Regions from separate parts of the Homo sapiens genome. Here all the other regions are linked to region 2. The links come from fine-mapping of genetic effects on gene expression. A gene starts in region 2. Each other region holds a variant in brackets. All regions are shown on one strand. Distances are between the middles of the regions.

The links. PIP is the estimated chance that this variant, and not a neighbour inherited with it, causes the effect.
Region 1: its variant is fine-mapped to the expression of ATP8A1 in nasal epithelium (TOPMed, PIP above 0.99).
Region 3: its variant is fine-mapped to the expression of ATP8A1 in subcutaneous fat (GTEx, PIP 0.99).
Region 4: its variant is fine-mapped to the expression of ATP8A1 in atrial appendage (GTEx, PIP above 0.99).

What each region holds. Positions count from the first base shown.
Region 1 is chr4:42,707,250-42,712,410 of GRCh38, reverse strand. No RefSeq gene overlaps it. Among named protein-coding and RNA genes, the nearest start is that of ATP8A1-DT, 52 kb to the right of the region's middle. The variant G/T (reference allele first, on the strand shown) is at 2,557.
Region 2 is chr4:42,654,490-42,659,650 of GRCh38, reverse strand. It overlaps ATP8A1 (ATPase phospholipid transporting 8A1), which reads left to right and starts at 2,546. Exons shown (of 37, transcript NM_006095.2): 1 at 2,546-2,826. The coding sequence starts at 2,778. It overlaps ATP8A1-DT (ATP8A1 divergent transcript), which reads right to left and starts at 2,128. Exons shown (of 1, transcript NR_186688.1): 1 at 1,304-2,128. RefSeq lists enhancers at 2,110-2,319, 3,310-3,359 and a silencer at 2,350-2,819.
Region 3 is chr4:42,811,478-42,816,638 of GRCh38, reverse strand. No RefSeq gene overlaps it. Among named protein-coding and RNA genes, the nearest start is that of GRXCR1, 79 kb to the left of the region's middle. The variant G/T (reference allele first, on the strand shown) is at 2,605.
Region 4 is chr4:42,592,049-42,597,165 of GRCh38, reverse strand. The region is part of intron 6 of ATP8A1 (ATPase phospholipid transporting 8A1); the gene reads left to right. Among named protein-coding and RNA genes, the nearest start is that of ATP8A1, 62 kb to the left of the region's middle. The variant G/A (reference allele first, on the strand shown) is at 2,123.

The sequences.
Region 1 (5,161 bases), 53 kb before region 2:
TAGAATCTGTAATTGAACTCCAATAGTTGGGCTATAGGATCTGTACTCTGAAGCACCATGCTATGCCGCCTAAATTTAGGTTTTTAACAGATGATTCTGTACTTCATCTAATGTAATTTAATTTCCAGCCTTAGATAACATTGTTTTCAAATACCTCTTATAACCCAGCATATAGTCTCAGTCACTTCAACTATGATTTAGAACTCTACATTATTTTCCTCTCAAACAGAATCCATTCCCACTAAAGACATTACTAAGCAATGTAGATTTTACCAAAGATTTCATATAAGAAATGAAAAAAGGAATTTGCATCAAGTACCTGATGGCAAACTACAGTGTTTTATGTGATTGATGCATTTCTGAAAACACCAGTCATTCTACTCAGGAAACTGGAAAGATAATTATCCCATAGGAATAAATGTAACAGTATATTATAATATTCTAAACTTTCTATTACAAAAGAGGCTAGTAATATTTTTATATCATACTATTCCAAATTTGAATAGTTCAACTTTGCATGAAATAAATAAAGTATGTAAGTCTTCCCCATGGTTTTCATAATGAGGAAGAAAGGAATGTTCCTTTCCATCCTTCTATCATAGAACAAGCTAACTCTTGCCTCCAGCTTCCTAAAATCTTAGTGCTCAACTGCCCCCACACAAAAGTTTCATCCTTTATCTCACTCAGCAATTTAGTCCTACTTCATCCCCCATACCAGCTTATCTACACATGAGGTTAAACAAAGATCTCCCCATCCACAGGAGCCCACTCTTCTTAGAAAAGGGAAGGAAGTGGATAGAAGTATATAGATTAATACAGTGTTGTATGGGAGCCAGTTTATCCCAACTGTAAGCCAACTGCTAAATTTTCAGGAATTTTGCAAGTGGTTCTTAAACATGACCATTATTAAAAACTGAATTACAGCCTTGGAGCAGTGGGTCATGCTTGTAACCCCAGCACTTCGGCAGGCAGAGGCAGGCGGATCACCCAAGGTCAGGAGTTCGAGACCAGCCTGGCCAACATGGCGAAACCCTGTCTCTACTGAAAATACAAAAATTAGCCAGACCTGGTGGCGTGCAACTGTAATCCCAGCTACTTGGGAGGCTGAGACAGAAGAATCGCTTGAACCCGAGAGGCAGAGGTTACAGTGAACCAGGATGGCGCCACTGCACTCCTCTCCAGCCAGGGTGACCGAGAGAGACTACATCTTAAAAAAAAAAAAAAAAAAAAAACAAACAAACAAACAAACAAAAAAACCTGAATTACATAAGCTTATGATTAAATAAATTACACTCAAACAAAGATTATAAATACTCAAAAGTGACTGCTTTCTAGTTATTTTACTATGTACTTTTATCTGTGCTCTGGGACTTAAGTCTTTTGTGTCTATATGGTGAAAATACCATATAAAGTGTTCTCCAGTGCATCACTTCCCAACTCTGTGTTCAATGCTGACATACTGGTAGCTTGAAATGAGCCACAGTGGGAGAAGCTATGGTACAGAAATTGACAAAGTTTATAACTAGAGCTTTTTTCTGCCTGGAGATCCTATGGTTAAACATTTACTAGCCATTAGATACTTGGTTTGATAGAGAGGGATACATACATTCATATACTCATTCATATATATAAATGTACATACATAGAATTGTAGCTAGATCAGCACTGGCTTCCTACAGAAATACCTCTGTAGGTCTTTTAATAAAAATTCTTGCAAATTTCAGTAAAACCACTGGATATTATATTTACCACTGGAATATAGAGCACGTGGTTTCACAGAGGGTATGAAAAGTTAAATTCAAACAATCCACTGAATCTCCTTTCATGTAAACAGCCAACAATAGAGAAAAGAAACTAACAATAAGGACCATGTAGAGCTGGCACAAAAGGCTCTTTGACGAACTAGGAGGAAAATGCTGAGCCAGCACAAGTTCCCCGGAGCAGATTTATGTATTCTAAATTATAGGTGGTCAGCATAAACGTTCTCCAATAGTAGGGCACACTTAGAAACCTCCTCTCTAAACAAGAAAAATGATATTTTAAGTTGCAGGGAATGGTAATCGATTTCTACACAACAGAGCAAGACCAAGCAAATTTGAAAAACTTGCAACTAGAGAACTGGGGGCTGACTTTGTGAAGAAATTTTCTCCAGTTCCAACCAAAGTAGGCAAAAATACCTTTTTCAAAAATGTAATGACACTGTATATCTAAGAGGTTTATTATATTGCTAATGATAATATACAGTAGTAACTGCAGCTTGGGACCCAAAGAGCAGAGGCAGCTCTGCTTCATATTTAATATCAAATGGCTCATACCTGCTACAGGCATGTTTGCAAATGGAAAGTATGGTTTTATACAAAACGTTTAAATGTTACATGTTTCATGATGGTAGTTATAAACATTAAAATAAACATGGGCTGGAAACAATTCAATTCAAATATTTATAATGTTCAAATCACCGTTCTCATCACCAGAGAGATATAAAGATTATTCCCCACATTGCCAACATTCACAGGGTCACTGGGGAGACACAACTAAGTGTAACCTGGAAAACCT[G/T]CTTAACCAGCTTGGAGTACAAATATGGTCACACTTTTAACAATTGAATTGCCCCATTTCTGAGTTATCTAAGCTCTTTCTGCAACAGGAGTCTTGGGAAGAGAGGCATTTATTCAGTTCAAGGAGGACCGTTTGTAGTTCACAAGACAAAATTAGAGAGTTTGATCAGGGCACTGTGAAACTTGGTTTATAATTTTCATTACTTTTGTTGCTACCACCTGGTGTGTCATTATCGAAAATGTGTCCTTGCTTTTGGTTGCTAAGTCATCCTTGCTGAGTCAGGTTCTTGAAGAGGCTGCAGTGATAATTCGTGCTTGGGCTCCCAAAGTTTCATCTCCTTTAGTTTGCACTCACAAACCCACCATGACAGGATGTCAGATCAGAGAAGTTTCTAGCCCACACTCAAGCTCTATCACAAACAACTGACCTCCACAAACAGGGACAGTGGTAATGAGTCTGGGTCATTAGTAAGGTCTTCCCTCTTCACAGCGAGCTCCCCTTCGGTCCTTCACAGCTTTTGTGACTGGGAACCACAGCAGGACCTTCTCAACCTATCAGAAAAATTCTACCACTAAACCTCTGAAAGAAAGAGATGGCATCTCCCTATGTCTTCTCAGGATATTCCTTGGCCTCTCTGCAAACATAGCTACCTCTTCACCAGGGATTAGTTCTGAATGTTGAGGGGTACTAGAGGGACAGGAGTTACATATACTTCACACTGCAGGTGCAAATTCACCTTGCAGTTGTACAACTAAGAGAAAATATTTGGGTTATTCCCCAGAACAAAAAAAAAAATCTGCAAAAAAGTAATATTCTGTTTCTACAAAGACAGATGGCCAGTTTAGTCCTCTTAAAAAGTACTGTCTCACCAGATACACTCCAACTTAAATAATTTAGAAGGTAATCTGGGCTATGATAAATGTGTGCACAAATTCAATAGGAGCATAGAGCACCCAGCAATTAAGTTTGACTGAATGGATAAGGAGAGCTTTCAAGAGCCAAAGATATTTGATCTGGGACTTAAAGTGTGGGTTATGCAAACAGAGAGGGAAAGGTGTTTATGCGCAAAACAGCTCAAGGGAAAAGGATGTGTAAATATTCAAAAGTAAAGGTGAGCCATTTACCTGGGTGACAGAACACAGGTTTCATGGGCAGCCAGGAGTGAAGAGTGGGGAAAAGAAAGTTTGCTGTAGACCTACCTTGTGTTCAGCTTTGAATATCATGTTAATGAGTTTGAACTCTATTCCAAAGATGATGGGAAGCCACTCAAGGATTAAGAGCAGAAGAAGTAATGTATTTGAATCTGTAATTTAGGGAGATAACTGATACCTATGCAGAGGATGGACAGGTGAGAGGCTGGAGCTGTTCTCAGCATCCAGGGTAGAGAAGGTGCAACCCTGAGAGTAGAGGCAGTGGCAACAAATGGAGAAAACTGATTCTGGGCCGGGCACGGTGGCTCGCGCTTGTAATCCCAGCACTTTGAGAGGCCGAGGCGGGCAGATCACATGAGGTCAGGAGTTTGAGGCCAGCCTGGCCAACATGGTGAAACCCCATCTCTACTAAAAATACAAAAAATAGCCGGGCACGGTGGCAGCCGCATGTAACCCCAGCTACTCGGGAGGCTGAGGCAAGAGAATCACTTGAACCCGGGAGGCAGAGGTTACAGTGAGCCGAGATTGTGCCACTGCACTCCAGCCTGGGTGACAACAGCGAAACTCCGTCTTCCAAAAAAAAATTAAATTAAAAATAAAATTAAAAATTAAAAAAAAAAACTGATTCTGGTAACATTGCAGGACAGATTAGCAAACACTGGGGAATAGCGGAAGAAATGCAGAAGGAAAGTGATGCTGAGGTTTGTAGCTAGGGAGATTGGATAAAAGCTACACCATTAACCGTCCTGGGAAACATTACAGGAGGAGAGTTGTAATGAGGCTACAAAATGATGGGTTTCTTTTGGGCATACTGAGTTTGAAGTGCTTACAGGACATTCATGTGGAGAAGCATTTTCTAAATTCACTTTTTAAAAAAGAGAGAAATGTTTTTATCTCTAGGTAATAAATGGTGATAACTGTGCCAGAAGGACATCCAAATACTTTTCAACAAAATTCCTCATCACAAGCAAATATTCTGCTACAAAAACATTTCTGGCACCAGTGAAACAGGGTAAGTTAAAAATACATATATTATTTTTGTTTGTGTAATTATATAATGAATAAGACACTACAAATCAATGCAAAAGAAAAAGATTAATAAATAACAAAGATCTACAGTGGCTATTTAGAAAATAATTACGGATTTAGAGACTTTCCTCATACCATATACCTAATTAAGTTAAACAAAAAATAAAGTAGAAGAAAATGAAGGTGGTTATTGATCCCAGTCTCTGGATCTCAGGATAGAAAACATTTTATACACTTAAAAGCAATGGGAAAAAAATCCCAACATTTATGGTTAGTAAATTTGACAATATAAGCATTTTATATCTCTCCTTTAATAAACATTAACTGAATTTAAAAGACTTTAAAAAGTAGCATTGAAATTTATTAGTCGCAAATATGACAGAAAAAAATAGTATTGTTTATACGTAAATATCTAGTATTTTTCT
Region 2 (5,161 bases):
ATATTAGCCATCTTGTTGCTACTGCTGTTTAGCTTTCATTAAGTGCCTCTATAACCTAGTTCTCTGGCTCAGCACCTCACACGTGTTACGTATTCAATGTACATTTTGTGGAGGATAAAACCTGGATCTTAGGGAAGTTGTCCTTAAATAACCCTCTTCCTTCTAAGTCTATCAGCAGTATAGTCATATGACCTGAAAGATTTTAAATGATCTTGCTGACATCTGAATTCTACTACAGATTCCGTGACAAAGTCATGTGGCTGGAACCGGAGTTCCCTGCCAGGGGCTGGCACATTGCACTTCTCACACAATAGAAGGTGAGACGATCTGAGAGCCTTAAAATCAAGCAGATGCAGATTAATGCAATCCTCAACTTCAATCAAGTTCTGAACCAATAAAAATGTGTGATTTCTAGCAGTCAGGAATGAGTGGTTTTTAAGAAATAAGGTAGTTGGGATACGCTTGCCATTATGGATAAAGTGATAATATCAGGGAAAGGACACACGGTAATCTATAGACTATATCATGCAATATTCTTCTCTGTATAAGTGACTTGTTTCCTGTATCAATGACGTTTTCAACTTTGCTGATGAGTTAATGGGACACACATGTAAAAAATGGATTGCTCTATACAAAACAGAGGTAACTTCTGGAGTTCCTTCAGTTATTACTTGTAAATAAGCAGAATTGAACCTCAACCCCATCTGAGGACTAATTAGGAATTACAAAGGTGATTGCTCATAAATGAACTATCGTCATGCTGCTGCGCACTGATTTTTAATAAGAACTGGTTATGGCTTCATATAGAATTACACCTAAAATGTTAATCAGAAAAGCACTGCATTTCCTCCAGTTTCTGTTCGCTAACTTTTAAAGCTGATTATTATTTTTACTATTTTCCTTGCTATGTTAGCCCTTTAATTTTGTTTCAGACTCATGTTCATTAAGCCAGAGCAAGCCTGCTTTATACAAGGAGACCCTGGGCCTTGGAAGAAATAAAAATGCCCAGTGATGACAGTCCAGATAAAGCTGTGTTCATTTTTTACGTTTAGAAGACCATACTTTAAATCATGACTATCACTGAAACAGATAGATTCATTTATTGTTGAGTCCTGCTTTACCCTGAGATGTTCCATGAACACTGAGAATACATTTTCTTTGTTCTAATTCCAGCCTCTGAATCAGAGCCAACTAGAGTGGGCTCTTCATAAATATGCATTGACTGCCTGAGTATTAATGTAGGGCAGGGCTCTGATTAGCAAGTGCTACCTGCAGGAAGCAGAAGAAATACCACAAATGGAGATAGGACGCTATTAGCAGATTTTATTTCATTTTTTCCTGAGGCTTGGAAATAATCACTTCTCTCTCAGGTCAAACCTCTCCAGCTCTCTCCCTTCAGGATGTGAAAAGATCTCAAATAAAAGGCCTCTATGTGAGGATCTCTTTCGCTGGTTGCTGGAGGAAGAGCATGAAATGAGGGAAGAAGCAAATTGCTTCTGATTTATTGTTTCTGGTTTATTCCTTTCCTGCCAGTTCAGCAGCTCGCCAGAAACAGCACAAAACCTTACATCTTAACTTGAAGGTGAAGTATTTGTTTTGACAACTTTTTAGCATAGATCTCGGTATACAAAATAAAAGGTAATGAGGCTATGATAGTCTGAAGGACATCGGCAAATTAAAATTTAACATATTTATGGATTTTATACAAAGACTCCTCTCCCCTTTGCAGATAAAACGACTGCATCCAACTTTATGCAGATTTAACTAAAAGAAAAAAAAAAAGTCTTTTGTGAACCACCTGGGCCAATACTTAGTTGGCTTAATTGCTATTTCAGTGCCTTGTCAGGCTGCAGAGCCTGAACTAGGGAGATGCACCGGGCCCACTTGCAGGCGGGGCCCAGATGCACCCAAGCCCCATGGACAAGAGCACCATGGGCACCAGGGGCCTCCCGACCTGGCAGCCTGTTGCTAGTGGGCGAGGCAGGAGGACAAGTGCGGCTCAGGCCACGAGTCGGGCTGGGCGTGCAGAGAGGTTAGAATTACACCCAGATGGCGAACAGTCAGTCGTTCCTTTCCTGCTCTGGCTGGGAGCTAAACCTTGTAGTCCCAGACCCTTTCGCCTTCGCCTGCCGGCTCAGACCCAACAGCTCTTTCCGGACGACGGGCGGCTCCACTGCGATCAAAAGCCAGGGGTAGCGGGAGGGGATTCGTGAGAATGCAGCAGCCAGAGCAGTCTTTCCTTTCTGAGCAAGATGTGAGAGAGTCCGAGTGGCCTGGAGGAGGAACCGGGTCAACCAACTCCACAGGGCGGAGCGAAAACGCTGGAGGACTAAGGAGGCTAAGAGTTGATCCCCCCTTTGAGTCGTGATACGGTCCGAAGCGGGGCGGGGCGGGGCGAAGGAGGCTCCCCCTGGCTCTCCCCGCCCCTCACCCGCCTTCCTTGCTGAGCGGCCGCGGGAGGGGGAGCGCGAGCCCCGCAGGCCCCTCCCCCGGCGCCGGCGCCCGAGCTCCGCCCCTCGCCGAGCCGCCCCTCCGCGGCTGCAGCAAGAGCTCGCCCAGCTCTGCGGGCGCCGCCACCTTCGCCGCCACCGCTGCCTTTCTCCTCCTCCTGTCGGCGTGCGGGGGCCGCGCCCGGCGGCAGCTCTGCCCTAGGTGGGCGGCGGCGCGGCCCAGGCTGCAGCTGAGCGCTCTGCGCGGCGCAGCCGGGTCTCCCGCGTGTACCACGCCGTGACAGGTGCAGAGTCCGGGCTGAGGACCCACCTGCAGCCGCCGCCGCGATGCCCACCATGCGGAGGACCGTGTCGGAGATCCGCTCGCGCGCCGAAGGTAAGGGGCCGCCGAGGCTCGGGGCTAGCCCGGGGTCGGGAAGCGAGTGTGTGTGTGAGCGTGTGTGTTTATCCTGGAAGAGACCGCATCCTACCTCTTCCCCGGCGGCAGTCCGACTGTCGCGCCCGGCCCCTAGGGGACCCTTCCCCCCGCGCTGCCCCCAGTGTACTCGCAGACCCTTTCCAGGCTCCAGTACCCTCGAATGGGTGTTCTCCGCGGGAGCCCCGAGGCGTGCTTTGCACCGCAGTGTGACCATTAGGTCCCAGTCACTGAGCTCACTCGCCCTGCCCACCTCCCTCCCCACCAGTTCGATTTCCACTCAGCAGATCCCCAGCCCGCCGCCCCTGCCTCCGGCGCCCACCGTTTTGCAACCCCCTATCTGAGCTCCCAGCGAAGCGAGTTTGCTTTTCCCCGGCTGCAGGATCCTTTGATCCGTAGTCCCTTGGCTCTCGAAGCGCGGGGAGCCTTCATCGGGGTCGGGTGCCGAGTGGGTTCCCTGCATTACAGCTTCTGCAATTCTGCCTCCTGCAGCGGAGTCCCACCGGCTCGCGTCTGAGGTTTCGTTTTTGTGTTTCCCTTTTGCCCGAAACCCTCACTTCGGCCAGCTGAGCTGACTTTTCAGCCAGGTGGAAGCTGTTTTCTTTGCTCCACCTGGGGCCAGCTCTTGAATGGCCATGGTTGTCAACACTGAGCAACAGATGCTCCGGGGTAGAAGCAAGTAAGCTTTCCGAGGGCCCAGACTCTTCATCGTCTCCGAGGAGCCCTCAACATCCTGCCTGCCATGTGGCAGGCACTCTGTAAATATTATTTGATTTTGCTCGCGTCAAAGCCAAGACTGTAAATATCCCAAGGTTTGTTTGTCCTCTCCCATAAACCTGTACTTGAATCCTGCAGAGGGTGGAATAACATGTTTTTCAGAAATCTATCTTGCCATCATCGCTGATTCCCACTCTTCCTCCCCACCTCCATCTTTTAATGTGAGACAGGTGGTGAAGTGGTTTTAGAAAAATATATAAGTTAGGAGAATTGGATTTCAGGGATGGAGACAGGCCATTTTTTCTCCTTAGGGGCTCCCTGTAAAAATAGGGTCCCTGAAATTTTCTGATTGCAGTATTTAGGAAATATTAAATGAAACTGCTGTGGGGAGAAGACGAAGCAAGATTCAAAACTGGCCTGTGTACTACATAGGAATTCGGTACATGCTGTCATTTGTAATACCCAAAAAATACTTATATAGGGCATTATAGTTTTACATACACAGTTGAATACATTATACTTTTAAAATGCACACTGTAAAAATTCATTTTTTTTACACTTCTGAGTGAAATTAGTCATAGAGATAGTGAAAGTAGAATGGTAATAGTTGGTGGTGTTCTTTTAAATAATAGCAATTGATGGGTCCTATATTGTGGGAAATAAGGGGAAGAGAAAAAGTCTGAGAGCACTGCAAAACCTGTGGCATGTGAGGGGATTACAGGGCTGCAGTATTGTTCTTGATTGGCTTGTGTATTTTCCAAAGTACTTTTACAAAGATTACTTTATGGAAACTTACAACACTCCTGGAGGTTGGTGAAGGTGGAGTGCCATCTGATAGTTGAGGAAACTGTGGCCCATATGGTTTAGTAATTTGCCCAAGGTCAAGTAACTAGTTCAGTGACACATTTGGATTAAGAGCTCTGGGAAAACAAGGACTGCTGCTTGTTTAATCTTTGTATTCCCTGTGCGTCCAGCACAGTGTCAGGGCCATAGTGGTGCTTGGTGAGTGAATGACCCTTTCCCCTGAGATTAGTTGATTCCAGTTTATTATAGCTTCAGCATGTGCTTGGGACTGTGGTGAAGACAAATAATGACTCTGTGGGGCTGGCGTTGTGGCTCATTGCCTGCTCTGCCCACACTTTTCTTTCCTAGGAAATATTTCTTTCCTAAAAAATATAGTCCTACCTTTCCTAAGGAATATTCTCCTTTGAGAGAGGCCCTGCTGCCTAGAGGGCCTTGTTCTGAACTGCAGCCTTTTTGGCCTCAGCTGATTGGACTATGGTTGGCTCCTGACCCAGGGTCAACCAATTCTTATGTGACTCAGACACTTGTAACCTTGTGGTTTGGCTCAAAAAGAGTCTCTGTGTTAATCATATCTCTCTTGAAAACATTAAAGTTAGAGATTTAGAGTAAAAGCAGAAGGGAGCAGAGGTGAATAGGCTGGTATGGGAGAGAATGGGTGGCCATAATAAGTCATGGGAATGCTGCTGATAGAAGAAAGCAGAAACTATGAGTGAGTAGAGAGATAGCAAAGAAAATGGAATGGATGGGCAGACACAGATCCTGAGAGAGGGTGGCG
Region 3 (5,161 bases), 160 kb before region 2:
AAAGAAAATTAAGGTCAAGATAGGACAAGTACTGCTTGATACTGTATCAAATATCAGAGAATGCTTGCTTATTAGAAAAGAATCATTGCCAGGATTTGAGAATAAAGCTAGCATTATAAACAAAAAGCCCAGAGTAAGGTAAGCCAATGGCATTTTCTTCTATGCCAATTACTAACCAATCTCGGAGACTCTGCGAACAGCCTCTGGAAGGCTGTAATAAGTATTCGTAGCTGCTCTGGCAAGCAGGGCCTAGAGCCCAGAACAGGAAACACATTTGCTCAGTGTCTAATCCAGCTCAAAAAGTAAGCACCCTGAGTAATTCTTTCCACTCAAAGGACAGGCTATCTTTTCTGAGCCCAGACCTGCTCGCTGTTAGTGTAGAAGATTCCTTTAGAAAAATGTAAATGAACAAACAAACAAATTGAGTAAAAAATAAAAGATGAGAGAAAACCAGTCATCACTTTAGGACAGGGTCAAGTATAGGGAAGCATGGAGTATTTCACTGTGAGAGGTAACCTTCATTCAAATTAAGCTGGTCTTAAAACTTTAAGGTAATAGGCAAGAGTTAATGGGTTTTAATAATTCTTTGGTAGGTTAATTGACAGGATTCCTTTTCTCTGCTTCTTTTAAGAGCTTAGGCTCTGGAATAAGTTGGCTTAACCTGGATTCAGGAATGAGTTCCATTACAGTCTAAGCTCTGCCACTTAAACAAGTTACTCTAACCCTGTTTTCTCATTTCTCCAGTATGTATACTAACAGGATTTATTTCATAAGTTTTGGGGGAGAAGATTAAATGAGATAAAACATGTAAGAAGCCTGACATATCATAAACCCTCAATAAATGTTAGCTATCATGATCAATATTATCATTTTCTCTGTTATAATAAAGAAAGTATATTTCCCCTAGCAAATTACTAGCCAAAAGTGTCATACCTACCAGAGAACTTTGGTGAATCTGTTATTCTCTTTCCCCTATTTTGAACTTCTCTTACTATTTACTGGATCATTTCCTAGCAAAATTGAATCATGTTTCTTACTATCATGTTTTTACAAAGCACCCCCCCGAAACCCCCTGCCAATGCCACCTCTCCTTTTAGTTAATTGCTTCCTTCCTCCTCACTTGGTTGGAAAAAACTCTTGAAATAATAGTCTACACACATGGTTTTCCAACTTTCATTCTCATTCCAGCCCACCCCATTATGATTTCAGCCCCTTCTATTCCATTAAATATCTCTACCCACCAGCTAAGTTTTACAGTTACCTCCCTTTTTGCCAATTCCAATGGACACTTTTCAATCCTCATATAACTAGAACTTTGAGTCATATTCAATTTAGTTTACTCTCTTCTTCTTGAAAAGCATGCTGGGGTGTTTTTCCCTTTTCATGACATTTTCTGCTGGTTTTGGAAATAATAGATTTTTCTATATTCAATTCCCAAAGCTCTTCTGTTCTCATTTACATTCTCTCTATCAGTGATCACATCCAAACCCCATGGCTCTTCATATTTCCAGCCAAGATCTCTTAGTACAATAAGCAACCATCTCCTTGATATCTCTCCTTGAAGTCTTCGAGGCATCTAGATTAACTGTGTTTAAAACAAACTCTTAATATTTCTACACATGCCCCAAATAGTCTCCTCAAGTCATTGCATTCCTATAATCACATATCCACCTACTTCCTTGATCAAATAAATGTCATTCATGACACCTTCCATTTCCTTATCTTTCCACATCTAATCTGCTGTTTGTATCTGTGAATTGTCCCCTTAATATAGTGGCTCTCAATCGAGGGCAATTTTACTATGCAAGAGATATTTAGCAATGTCTAGAGACATTCTAAGTTTTCACAAATTGATGGAGGGCATTGGGGGTTGGGCTGGGGAATGCTACCGGCAGAAGAAGGGGTCAGGCATGTTGTTACACATTCTACAATGAACAGAACAAACCCCGCAACAAATAATTATCTGGTCCAAAATTTCAAGAGGGCTGATATGGTTTGGTTGTGTCCCCACACAAATCTTATCTTGGATTGCAGCTCTCATAATTTCCATGTGTTGTGGGAGGCACCCAGTGGAAAATAATTAAATCATGGGGGTGGTTTCCCCCATACTTTTCCCATGGTAGTGTCTCATGTCATCGGATAGTTTTGTAAGGGGAAACTCCTTTCACTTGGTTCTCATTCTGTCTTTTGCCTGCTGCGATGTAAGATGTGTCTTTTGCCTTCTGCCATGATTGTAACGCCTCCCTAGCCATGTGGAACTGAGTCCATTAAACCTCTTTTTCTTTGTAAACTATCCAGTCTCTGTAATGGACTGTGGAATATGTCTAGTGGAATATGTCTTTATTAGCAACATGAAAACGAACTAATACAAGGGCCAAGGTTGAAAGACTCTGCCCTAACATATATTGTGAATTTGTCAAGTTTTCTCGGTCTCCATTGTCAGTACTCTGACCCTCTCTGGCTTTATTCTGTCACACATGACCCTCTCTGGCTTTATTCTGTCAGTGGTGTCCTAAGTGGGCTCTCACCTCCTTCACTCTTGCCTCCTACCTTCTCATCCTCTTCTCTGCACAACAGCCGGAGTAATCGTTGTAAGGTGTCAAT[G/T]TGATCCCATTGTAACCCTGCCACCAGCATGACACCCTTTGGTGGTTTCTCTACTGCACCTAGAATAATAGCCCAGCTTCTAATCATTCCTAAGCCCTTGTCCTCCTCTCGAACCTTGCCTCTCACATCACTCTGTCACCACTCGGTCTTCCTGAAGCAAACGGTCCTTTTTTCTCTTCCTCAACACACCAGCCCCTTTGCTTCCTCAGGATCTTGCCCTAGAATTCTCTTCCTCCCACTCTGTCTAATCCCTACTCAACTTTCGTACACTGTAGAAACATCACTTCACATTCAGCCTCTCCTCTACAGCTCCATGATTCTCCCCAGTGGCATTCTTTCCTTTCAATTTATGGCTCTTGGACAATTTCTAATTATATTTTTGTATAAATATTCATTGTTTAGTACCTGTCTCCCCAAATATACTATAAGTGCTTTGAGGTCAAGGAGCAGAGAAATGAGAAGAACTCTAGCAGTTCTGGAAATGTGGCACATGTGATCTGAGCAATTCAAAAAAGAATGGAGGGATTAAAGCAATCTTCACTTATTTCCTTCATAGCTTTGTCTATCTCATATTATTGTGAGTTCACTGGCTTCCCTATACTCCAGCATGGGAGAGGAGCACACATTCCTGTGCCCACTGAAAGTGGAGGTTCACAAGGGGTATACCCAGCTTCATCCACATTTCCCATCTCTATTCTAAGTCACCTCTGCTTCACTCTCCTATCACAGTGATGGACATCTTTAGAGTATTATTGCTGGTACAAGCACACAAAAACTTTTGTCACTTTCTGTTTGAAATACTTTGTCATGAAATATTAAATTTTATACTTTTCAGAAAGCACATTGTATGTGAACCTTTGTGGAGATAGTGAAGAAGAATTCTTACGACCTTGAGGAGTCAGAATTTTTATAATAGAAAATCAAAAAGAGAACAATCAATTTTCAGGGTATTCTTTTTAAGTTCACAGAATAAACTCTTGAAGTCCTCATCAGAAGCAATCACTTTGAAAGTCAAAGTCATTGATTTGCAGAGTGTTATTTTGTTGAGAACAAAAAAAAAATACATATCTTGAGCTGTAAAAGGGAAGATTCTAGTGGAAGTAGTAACTAGTGGATAGTTTATTCCATAACAAAGCATGGAATAGAGCAGGAATTCAAATTATCCAAGCCCTGGGGAGACTGAAAGTGTTCTTCCAGACCAAGAAAGGACAGCAAGGTGGAATAGTACAGGGTGTGAGCCTGGTAGAGGCCAGTGGGTTCTGAGACCTGACAAGCTCTGGTGAGACCATGCAGAGGGGAAAAGAGTCATTATTGTGATAGAACTGAACCCAATTGGCCTCTATCACTAGAAAGCTGCTTGGAAAAAGAGACAAGTCCATAGATCTGCATGTCCAAAATGGTGACTACTAAGCACATGTAGCTATTTAAATTTAATTAAAATTAAATGAAATTAAGAGTTCACTTCCTCAGTCTCACTAACTACATTTCAAAGCCTCAATAGCCACATGTGGCTAGGGGTTACTGTATTGTACTGTATAGAAACACTTCCATGGTTGCACAAAGTCCGGTTGGACAGCACTGCTATGTATCTCTGGTCATGCTCAGGTGCACCCCAAACATTCTGGAGCCTGGGGCAAGAGGAGTTACATATCACATGTCTAAATATTGAAAATGTATATATCAAGCTAATAAACTGTTAAATATAGTCATGTTTTATGTGCCTATGTTGACAAATATGTTCTTAATTACCTGGAAGTCCAAGGACAAACAGAATTCTCAGACTTCTTTGAATTTCACACTGACTAAAATGTGATGGTATCCAGAAAACAAGTCCCCAGCCCTCAAATCACAGTCCAGACCTTTCCCATCTTACTTGCACATGACACTGTGAGGGGCCTTCCACACATACATGGACAGCCCAGCCTACATGTGCAAGTTCCATCACATCCCTGCAAGCGAGGACCTCAAAGTGCAGACACCTGCAGGGAAGCCCACCCAAAGGAGGAAGGACTCAGAAAAGTATCCAACATGGACCCTGGAAATAGGATCAGGGTCATTTGGACCCCAGGATCCCAAGTACACAGAACATAATCTAGATAGAGGAGGAGAGGATAAGAGCTCCTGGTGGCCATGTCCCCTCAAGCTCATAGATTCTTTGTCTCATTAGAGGTCATATCAGAAAGGGCCAGAACAGTGCTCTCTAAAGGACTGGTCTCAAGCTACTGCTCTTCTCTGGGTCTAATGGTGATGCTTGCCATATTGGGTGAGCCTACTACTACAGACTTCCAATGGATACTCAATACTGCCTGATAATCCTACGATATTCTTCTAGTATATTTACTCTCTCACTTTCTAAAATGGTTATTCTATGCCTCTCCTCTTTTCTAACCTCCAGCACATTCTCCCTTTCCTCATTCTCAGCTTGCTTCACATTTTACTGAAAATGTAGAGACCACTGGAGGAAATTTTCATTAATTTTCCAACAAATCTGCCTGCTACCTGCATCTGCACCCACACTACCCTCTTTTGTTACAGTGAACAGCCTCTTCCCACCAAG
Region 4 (5,117 bases), 62 kb after region 2:
GGCTACTGTGGTTGCTCTTTAATGATCCTCAAAGGACCTACAAATTTGCCTAGCATGCATCTAATCATTCACAGCTGGGCAGACTTCAGCTCTCAGATATTAGTGGTTTATCTCTCCAGTTACTGCCCTGAAACCTTTTCCCTGTTGCAAAAGGTTAACTTGCAGATACATAGTTTTAAAAGAAAGTATGGTAATCACAAAGCCCTACACAAGGAACTACATTGTGACTCCTGAACGGTAAGCTGCTGGCTTCATTGCTCTTGCCACAGATTATTTCTTTACAATGAGGTGCAGCTAACACTGTTCACAGGTTTTTGAGATGTATGCAGGTGGAGAATTTAGCCAAAGAATCTTGGAATCAACGTATTCTTCTGGCTTATTAAGGAAGCATGGTGGGCTGTATGCATGTGTAAAAGTTACTCTGTAAAGCCACTTTTGTGCATGAAGCTTCCACCACAATATGTATTTCTTTTTTCTTTTCTTTTTTTTTTTTTTTTTTGAGATGGAGTCTCGCTCTGTTGCCCAGGTTGGAATGCAGTGGCGCAATCTCGGCTCACTGCAACCTCCACCTCCTGGGTTCAAACGTTTCTCCTGCCTCAGCCTCCTGAGTAGCTGGGATTACAGGTGCCTGCCACCATGCCCAGCTAATTTTTGTATTGGTAGAGACAGGGTTTCGCCATATTGGCCAGGCTGGTCTTGAATTCCTGACCTCAGGTGATCCGCCCGCCTCAGTCTCCCAAAGTACGGGGATTACAGGTGTGAGCCACCATGCCCAGCTAATAGTTGGATTTTTAAATCAGGCTATTGCAGTCTGATAATCTTACTATTTTACATAATCCTTGATGTTGCAAATATGAGTGACTTCAGAAGGCTGTAGGTAGTGGACTGAAAGCCCTAAACATTTCCTTAACTTTGGCATTTTGGGGACTAAAATTGCTTTATCATGACATTCCTCCAATTAGAATATGTATGATTAAAGCATTTTTGTCATCTTGACTTTTTCTTCTCTTGGTTCCTCTTATGCACACACTAGGCTGGAAGGGGAATGCCGTATTAGGAGCTCAGAATCCAAAAGGAAAGACAGGTGTTTGGATGTCTTTTGAGAAATTGATCTTAAACATAGACATTCTAAGGAGTTAAGTTCCCTACTTTCCTTACAGTAAAGAACTTTAGCAGTCATTGATTTAGCATGCTTTAGTAAGAACTTCAGCATTTAGTAAGCCCCTGGTTTTCCCAGGCCACTGGGGTACCATATAAATTGTTACTATTTTATTGAGTTTAGGAACCACAAGCCCTTCTTTTGTCTTACAATGAGTAAAGATGTTGGAAAGCAGCACAATCAATTAGGGATTTGTTTAAGTCTGACTGTTAGACTCTAACACGATAGTGTAGAGGACGTGATTCTGATTTTGTGAAGCACACAGTTGAATTTAAGAGGAAACATTAACATACAGGAGTTGATTAAAGAAAATTAAATGGTAACCTGGATGCATTCTAAGTGCCATGATTTCAGAGAATTTACATTTTATTATCTTTCTCAGTGAGTGTAATCACAGTACCATCACAGCACATTATTTTAAGGACCAGTTTACATTTATACTTGCAGTTTTTAATTTTTCCTCTTTGCCCTTTTTTGAGGTAGGGGGTGTTTGATTCCAAGATCCCTGGTAATTTGCCAGTTTCAGCTAGTCCAACTTTCAGATTTCAGCTGAATTATTTTTTGAATCAAGGGACCCAGAACTTAAGCATACGTGTCATAAATAAAAAGACAATACCCCTGCCCCAACCTTTTCTAACCTCTTCTTTTGGTAAATAATAGACTGCAGTGGGCTGCCTCTGCAGTAATTTCTTATTATGATTCCCACAAAAGACACTATTCTGTTCTTACCCTCATAGTGTTATTTTAGAGTTCAAGGAAAAGTAGGGAGGGGGAAGAACAAACAGGCTTTAATTTAGAAAGTCTTTTTTTTCCATCTATTAAGTATTGAAATTCATGTTTAGTCTCATTTGTCTACTAAGAGGTCAACTTTCATGATGTAAAGGGAGCGGCTAACAGTGTAACTTGGTCAACTCAGTTAAGCCAAGTTGTTGCTTAGTTACTGTGTTGTTTGCCAAAAGCTAT[G/A]TGACACATCTGTCACTTAAATGACTGCTATCAGTTTTTGAAAATAGTATCTCTTTATCTTTATGCCAGGCTCAGAAAAATGCTAAGAGGTAGTACAATGAAGAGATTAATTTTTAATTTAAAATACATTGATAGTTTCACAAAATTATGCAAAATCAGGATTTGCAGACAGTCAAATGTGGATTTGAGTCTAAGCTCTTCAACTCCCCATGATCTTGAGCAAAAATCTCAGAATCTCAAACTCATTTTCTTTCTCTCCAAATGATGAGTTATAAGCAATACTTGTTTCACAAGCGTTATTGTGAGGAGCAATTATATATGATAGCGTCTCCAGTTGCATTGAGATTTTCTTCAATAGGATAAAGATTTATATTGGTAAATCCCTCCTTTATATTTTTATGTCAGAGAGGATATGAGAAGTTAAGGTGTCAATTAAGTGGATAGAATAGATTGATTTTATCAAGATAAGTTATATATCCAATATACAATGTTCATTTTTTTTAAAGGATTCCTCCAACCCTGGTCTCACTCCTAGATAATTTTCTTCCATTTTGTGAAGATAAGTGGTTCTTGTTTGCCGATAACCATTTTTACTGTGTATTCTATGCTTTTTACAATGGGTTGTATATTTGTAACTATCTTTCAATGCAGATAATTAACCAATTCCCAGTTTTCTTTCAGGTAAATGTTGGAGATATAGTTATAATAAAAGGCAAAGAGTATATACCTGCTGACACTGTACTTCTCTCATCAAGGTAGAGATGCCTACTGATGCTCAAACAGTGTAGAGGATGGTTTCTCTACCCTGCATTGACCTTGTGATTTCTCCAAGGAAATAAGGAATAAACGAAGAATTTAAAACCTCTCTAATAATTTTTATTTAAACATTTAAAAAATTGATTGGACTTAAAGGGCTTTTTCATGTTTGCCATATAGAATAAGTGATAGGTACTATACTTTATCATTCAAATATAATTAAGAGTCTACTCTCCCTCTGGATCTATCCAGATCTTTTGTGGGGATCATAACTCTTTTAAGATTTCCTGTCATTTATTTTATATAATACATGGATTGGGTTCTATTGATATTTTTTATCTTTCAGTCCTTGTTCGTCATAAATCCCTACAGAGTTTCTTGATTATTATGATGGAATGGTATAAAAAAATGGATGAATGATTCTTTTTGCCATTATGCCTTTTGAAATGCCATACTCTTCCAACACAAAAGTACTTTGCTCTTTCTTTTAAGTTCTTTCAGTTACTTAATTTAAATAATTTTCATTTTACTCATATTTTAATCATGAATTAGTAGTCAGAACATATGGCACTGTTACTCTTTAAAGAATGTGACTTTCAAATGGTTTTAGGTTTAAAAACTATAAACTAGTCCTATTTTAAATTAAGAAAAATTGTTTTTAATATTTTAGAGGTTGTTTATCATCATTTCCTTGGACAGGTTTATTTGTAAATCCACATATGAATATGGACAGTGTCCTTTTTTCAAAATTTATTTAATCAGGTCATCATTTAAAGTGATTTGATTCATGACAAGTTAGCGAAACTTAACAAATAAAAGTATTTATACTAGATATTTATAGAAGTAAGTCTACAACCAATTAAAGTAACTGCAGGTAGTTATATTTCTATAATTTTGTGCCATGTACCTATAGGTTTTTGTTTTCAGAAAAAATAATATAGATGTTTTCAAATCACCCCCTCTGTTCTTAGTTTCCTTTGCTTATAACTTTATCAGGATAAATCTCTAAAACTGAGTGAAGCTAACCGTCCATTCTTGGCGTCTTCAGAATTAGCTTGAGGGAGAGCTTATTGTCATTGTCTCAGGTTCTAGGTAGTATCAGGCACTAGAAAGAGCTCTCTTTAGGGAGTGAAAAGCCAGGATTCTTATTCTGATTTGGTGATTTTGAACCAACTGCTTAATCTCTCATGCCTTGATTTCACATCTTTTATATTAAGATGGATTAAATGATCAAATTCCAATATTCCCCAATTCTTTTTGTTTAAATTGATAAGCTTTAAGAGTACCTTACAGAATGGTGTCCATTCAGTTTTACTAAGTAAAAATGTGATGAATGTATTGGACACTTGGCCATCTGAATGTTTGAAGTCTTGTGCTGCATAACAACATTTTGGTCAATTACGAAACACATATACAACGGTGGTCCCATAAGATTATAATGGAGCAGAAAAATTCCTATTGCACAAATACTTAGTATTGTGTTACTGTTTCTTTACACTATTCCATACAGTAACATGCTGTACAGGTTTGTAGCCTAGGAGCAATCTGCTATACCATATGGCCTATAGACTATACCATCTAGGTTTGTATAGGTACCCTCTATGATGCTCACACAGTGACAAAAATGCCTGACAATGCATTCCTCAGAAGCTACACCTGTCATTGTCACGTGACTGTATATAAGTTCAAAATGATAGTAACACCTTCTAACAATTTGGGAAAGTATTGTTTTCCCAATTAAACTCTTAGAGACATAATTATAGAATGAATCATATAGGCTGAACCGTTAAATACAATTTTTATTTTTGATGCTCAAAAATGTGAAGATAATCGACTATACTGCCCTGAATTTGTATTTAATTTTAAGTTGGAAATTTTCAAAATCTTTGCCGTCTGACTCTATCCAACTTCAGAAACTCCCCAGCAAGCTACTTGTATTTCTTAAACTTTAGACCACTTTTACAGAATTTGTTTTATAAGCATTAAAAACACTTACTGGTGGCTATGAATTTCAATTTATCGAAATAGTTTCTGTGTCTTAATATGGTCTCCACAGCGATTAACTTCCTCCAAGATTATATTTTTAAAAGATTATCTGATTCATTGCTTTTTGTTATTGAGTAGAATTCAAAATAAAAGCTGTGCTGCTAGACATTTCAATCCAAGTAGCAGAGTACCACCTTTCAGTATTTTTTTTCCTCAAAGGGTTTTAGCATTACTTAGCTCCTTTGAATCTACA